2 separate regions of the Homo sapiens genome follow, and region 1 is linked to region 2. The links come from fine-mapping of genetic effects on gene expression. A gene starts in region 2. The other region holds a variant in brackets. All regions are shown on one strand. Distances are between the middles of the regions.

Region 1 (2,910 bases), 39 kb after region 2:
GCTCACGCCTGTAATCCCAGCACTTTGGGAGGCCAAGGCGGGCAGATCTCTTGAGATCAGGAGTTCGAGACCAGGCTGACTAACATGGGGAAACACCTGTCTCTACTAAAAATACAAAAATTAGCCAGACATGGTGGTGGGCGCCTGTAATCCCAGCTACTTGGGAAGCTGAGGCAAAAAAATCTCTTGAACCCAGGAGGTGGAGACTGCAGTGAGCCAAGATCACGCTATTGCACTCCAGCCTGGGCGACAAAGCAAGACTCTTATCTCAAAAAAAAAATATATATATATATATATTTATTTATTTATTTATTTATATATATATATTTATATTTATATATATTTATATATATTTTTATATATATTTATATATATTTTTATATATTTTTATATATATTTATATATATTTATATATATTTTTATATATATTTATATATATTTATATATATATTTATATATTTTTATATATATTTATATATATTTTTATATATATTTATATATATATATATATGAGTTGGCCTTAGTTTTAAGTAGTTACTAGGTGTACCTTTAAAAAAACCCATCTTCCGGCCGGGTGCAGTGGCTCATGCCTGTAATACCAGCACTTTGGGAGGCCAAGGCGAGTGGATCACCTGAGGTCAGGAGTTTGAGACCAGCCTGGCCAACATGGCAAAACCCTGTCTCTACTACAAATACAAAAATTAGCCAGGCATGGTGGTGGGCACCTGTAATCCCAGCTACTCGGGAGGCTGAGAGGGTAGGATCACTTGAACCTGGGAGGCGGAGGTTGCAGTGAGCCGAGATCTCACCACTGCACTCCAGCCTAGGCAACTAAGCAAGACTCCGCCTCAAAAAAAAAAGTCTTCTCAATTCTTTGTGCAAATGCTCTTATTTAAATTTTCACTCTAACTCTGTTCACTAAAACATTACTGGCTTTCTGAAAGTTCCTTACTTGATTTGAAAGTTTGGCCTGCCTTCCACTGGAAGAGGGGCGCTATATTTAGCACAGTTCTTGAAATGCATTTTTCCAAAATGGCAGTTAAGCTATGCTGGAGGTGAATTGGAAATGTTGCTCTGGGAAGTTAGTGTCTTCAAATGGCTTAGAATGCCCAAAGGCCCCTCAGGAAGTTGGCTGTCTGATCACCTTCATGGCTGCCCCTAGCTGCTGCCTGTGGATCCTGCTCCGCTGCCGGCCTCTCTGTATCCAGGCCTTTGCTTCTTTGCCATATATGGCTGGAGCATGGTGTGGGTTTTTAGCTTTTGAATTTTATTCATTTAGAGCACTTAAGGGTTATCCTCCCCTCCCTTCCTGAGTTAAAGATGTTTTCTCCATTATGTTGCCATTTGCTGCTTCCGTCCCTACTGACCATAGAGCACCAACCAAAGGAATTTCATAGCAGCACTCCAG[A/G]CAGCCGGGGCTTGCTGCTTAGCTCCCTTTGGAACAAATTAAAAGCTACCCGTTAGTGCAGCAAATGGGGGTGCTTAATTAACTAAGAATGTGGCACCCTGAGTCCACTGCATTGGCATTTATAGTTTTCAAGTAACAGGCAACAAACAAGTATTTTTAATCGTCAGCTCATTAAATATCAAAAATGGTATAGTAGCTAAAAGCTTGGGATTGTTTCTTGAAGAACAGTTTACAAAGCTGGTCAACAGCCTTGTAAGTTGCCTTATCTGTTTTCTCTTAGTGTGGGCCCTCATTCTAAGCCCATAAATCAGTGTAACACCAAGCTAGGTTCTTGGGGTATATTACTTGGCTTAATAATGCATTCATTTATTCAGGCAGAAAACTTATACTTATCAAGGACTATGTGTCAGGCCCAGGACTGTAGGCAGGGGTTTTGAGGGCTGTCCTCCTCGACTCTGTCTTCAGCCTCTCCTTTTCCAATCCAACCTATGCCCTTAACAAAACTGGAGTTACTAGGCCTCCTTGACCATCTGTTGAATGCATTTTAGTCTGGTGATCAGTGCCTACCAATACCTTGCCCTGACCTGTCTGTCTGTCTTATCTTCCACAATCCTCCAAGGTTCTGGATGCAGAAGACAGATCACTCCTAGGAAATGCACCACCTGTGACCTTTCTCCAGTCTTCCTCATTATCTCTTTGTAACTTGTCCTGCAGTACAACTCTCACCTGCTTATTGAGGCAGTAACCTTCTTGGGAAGGATGACCTAAACATTTCTGAGGTTATTGTGTGTCAGATGCTATGCTGAGCACTTGATATATGTCATCTCACACAATGCTTTCCACAAAGTTTTATTCAAACACTTTTTTTTTTTCTTTAGAGATGGAGCCTCACTCTTTTTGCCTAGGCTGGAGTGAAATGGCGCGATCTTGGCTCACTGCAACCTCCACCTCCCAGATTCAAGCAATTCTCCTGTCTCAGCCTTCCAAGTAGCTGGGATTACAGGCACCCACCACCACGCCTGGCTAATTTTCGTATTTTTAGTAGAGGCGGGGTTTTACCATGTTGGCCAGGCTACTCTCAAACTCCTGACCTCGGGTGATCCGGCCGCCTTGGCCTCCCAAAGTGCTGGGATTACAGGTGTGAGCCACTGCACCCAGCCTATTCATATACTTTATAGCTCAGGGAGGTTCAGAAATTTACCCAGAGTCACACAGCTGGAAAGCTGGTGGTTTAGACACACATCTGCATAACTCCAAAACCAACTGTCTTAACCACTTTTCTACTTCTGGGGGTCAGCCCCAGGTCAGCCCACAGAAGCCTACATCTAGGACAGTAGAATCTCAAGCGGCAGCTCTGATGGGTGCATGTTCTATGCCTGCCTGAAGCTTGGGTTGGGGAGAACACAAGGACAGGGATCAGCTCCGGGTGTTGGGGGGCAGGGTGGAGGAATGACAGCACGTGCCGTGTGTGTGACATGGAGGTCTATTTTATCCATATTGCA
Region 2 (2,910 bases):
GAGAAGGAGAGGGAGGGGATTCTGGGCCCTGGAAGGAGAGTCATATAGAGGAGGCTGCCCTGTTGAATGGACGGAGGTGACAATTTCCAAGGTTTCCTGAGGCAAAAAGACCAAGATAAGGCTGGGGCTGGGGGGAGTTCTGTGCAGCAGGAGCCAGGTGGTAAAGACAGAGTGGAAGAGAAAGCCAGTATGGATTTTATTCTAAATGGCCTTTGCATAAGAGCCACCATAGAACAGTTTTATTTATTGATTTTATTTTTATTAATCCTCCTCCAAACACAGAACACATAATTTTACTGTTTTTTTTTGTTGGTGGTGGTGGTGGTAGGTTTGTTTGTTTGTTTGTTTGTTTGTTTGTTTTTAGAGACAGGGTCTTACTGTGTCACTCAGGCTTCAGTGCGGTTGGCAGGATCATAGCTCACTGTTACCTCTAACTCCTGAACTCAAGCGATCCTCTAGGATTGGCCACTGCACTCAGCCTAGAGTTTTAATTGGGATAAGTCAGTAGTCTGATTTGTGTTTTTGGAAGATAACTTTGGATCCAGGCTGGAGAAATGTATCGGACACGGGGACAAAGTCAGAAGTAGAAAAAGCCCTTAGGAAGAGGAGGTGGTATTCTTGAGGAAGGGGGTAGTGGAGAGGGACAAAGTGGGAGAGTTTAGGTGCTCAGATAAAAGGCAAAGCGCTGGGAAGAGTGCGGTGAAACTCTGGATAGCTTGGGCTACTCCACTTCTCTGAGCCTCAGTTTCCTCTTCCAAACAGAAATAATATCCACTTCATGAGGTTATGTTTGACAAGTGTAGTAGCTGAGAGTATTGTTTTTAGTCAGGTCTGGATTGGATCTCAGGTCTGGCAGGTAACAGCTGTGTGACCTTATGAGAGTCAGTTAATGATAGATTGTAGCCTTTATGGAGCACTTGTTATGTTTCAACCAACAGAACTCTCCCCAGACTAGGATACTTATTCTAGCTTCCAGGAGGGTGAGGGGGACGGGGGGTTGTGGTGAGGAAGTATTGTGGAGACAGCAAGCCTTTTGTCCAAAGTCCTACTAGTAAATGTGGAGCCAGGATTTCTCTGTCACGTTCCCCTAACTTTTCTGCGCCTAAAACTGGGATAACAATAATACACTTCCTTGTGTGGTTGGGCGTATACAGAAAGGGGTCTGGCACATAGCAGGTGTTTATTAAATTATTATTAAAATTATTATTATTACATTCTTTGTGTTTTCCTCAGGTTTTGCATAGAGTGAGCATCACTTGGACAAATCCTTTGGATTAAAAAAAGATCTACTAAGTGAGGGGGAAGAAACTGCGGCTGCCAGAGTCTCAGTGGGGGCTTGGGGGGCGTGACCAGAGGGGCGTGGTCTACGGGGGCAGGGCCACAACTGGAGGGCCAGGCTGTGGGGGCGGGGCCAGCACACGAGGACTGAGGGTGGGGGCGGGGCCCGGGCTGGCAACGCATGCCCAGTGCGGTCCCCTTCGCTGCCGCCGCGGCCGCCGCGGCCACCGCCCACTCGGGGCTGGCCAGCGGCGGGCGGCCGGGGCGCAGAGAACGGCCTGGCTGGGCGAGCGCACGGCCATGGCCCCGTGGCTGCAGCTCTGCTCCGTCTTCTTTACGGTCAACGCCTGCCTCAACGGCTCGCAGCTGGCTGTGGCCGCTGGCGGGTCCGGCCGCGCGCGGGGCGCCGACACCTGTGGCTGGAGGGTAAGGCGAGGGCGGCGGGTTTCTTGCCGTCGCCAACTCGCGGGGGACGCAGCGCGCACAGGTGCTCGCGGGGAGGCGAGCCCGCGCCAACCTGTCTGCTCTTCGCGGGGTCCGCGGCCGGCCTGGGTCTCACTCCTCCCGCGCATCCTCCTGGTTTCCCTCCCCGGACGCGTGTCCTCCGGCCCTGGCCGAGATGAAAGCGGCTGCCCGACCCCGGCTTTGTGTTGCTAATGAGGTGCGGCCGCCGGCCGGGGTCCCATTCAGAGGGCGGGCGTGAGGGGCGGCGGGGCTGGGCCGGGCGCCCCACCCTTTGTTCTTGGCCCGGGACCTCCTTCGTCCCAGGGCTGCGTGTCCCGGGCTGGGATCCCCCGAGCCACCCGGACCGGGTTGCGCTTTGGAGAGGGAAGGGGGTATTCTCCCGGACTTTCAGTCCACAACCCTGCTAAGGCCCGGGCGGCCGGAGAGGGGACTTGGAGCACCGGGGAGGGATGCGCCCCGCTCTTCTAGTAGCTTTGTTCCTCCTCGCCTGGGGCCGTCACCCCACTCCTACCCCTCCTCTGACTCCGGGACCTCCTGAGAAACTTCGCCTCCCGGTTCAGCCCTTCGTCTTGTGAAGGTCTCGCGGCTGATATCCTCCTTCCCTGCTTCGAGTTGCGGATATTTTTCCGCCAAAGGGCCGCGTGGGTGTCATCTGGGTGAGGTGCCTGAGACGAGACTGGAGAGGTGCCCAGACTTTCGCCGTGTGCATTGAGCCGTCTTCGTGGAACCGAGCGCTCCTTTGACACTGTCTGGGCGATGGGCGCGGGTGATTGCCATTCCCCTCTCAGCTTCCCTGCTCCCTACCTGGGCTTCTGGCCTTGGGCGGCCCCAGAACCTGGAGATGATGTCCGTCTGCCCCGAGTCTCCCACCGAGGCCCGGGTGGGCCCGGCGTCAGGGCACTCACGGCCTTAAGCTTGTGGAGAAAACGTAGGCTTTGCACTCAGGCAGCAGGGACATGACCTTGGCTCTGCTCCTGGGGAGCCATGAGCCTCAATTTCTTCATATGAAAAATGGGATGAAATGAGAATTTCCTTAGTATTGCTGGGCTGAGGGATAGGTATGGAGTGGTTTGCTTAGGCGAACGTTGACTCAGCCTCTTCTGGGTGGCTCTAAACAGCCTCAGCACAGCCAAAACCTAGGACATAACACTCCCTTAGGCACGCAGG

Which allele goes with the higher level. Alleles are on the strand shown, and positions count from the first base shown. SD is a standard deviation of normalised expression in the study named.
In carriers of allele A in region 1, the expression in iPS cells of the gene that starts at base 1,512 in region 2 tends to be higher than with G alone (small effect, 0.38 SD a copy in HipSci).

What was found. PIP is the estimated chance that this variant, and not a neighbour inherited with it, causes the effect.
Region 1: its variant is fine-mapped to the expression of IL17RD in iPS cells (HipSci, PIP 0.95).

What each region holds. Positions count from the first base shown.
Region 1 is chr3:57,124,783-57,127,692 of GRCh38, reverse strand. All of the region lies in intron 1 of IL17RD (interleukin 17 receptor D), which reads left to right. Among named protein-coding and RNA genes, the nearest start is that of IL17RD, 39 kb to the left of the region's middle. The variant A/G (reference allele first, on the strand shown) is at 1,409.
Region 2 is chr3:57,163,955-57,166,864 of GRCh38, reverse strand. It overlaps IL17RD (interleukin 17 receptor D), which reads left to right and starts at 1,512. Exons shown (of 13, transcript NM_017563.5): 1 at 1,512-1,704. The coding sequence starts at 1,579. RefSeq lists silencers at 1,324-1,373, 1,394-1,733.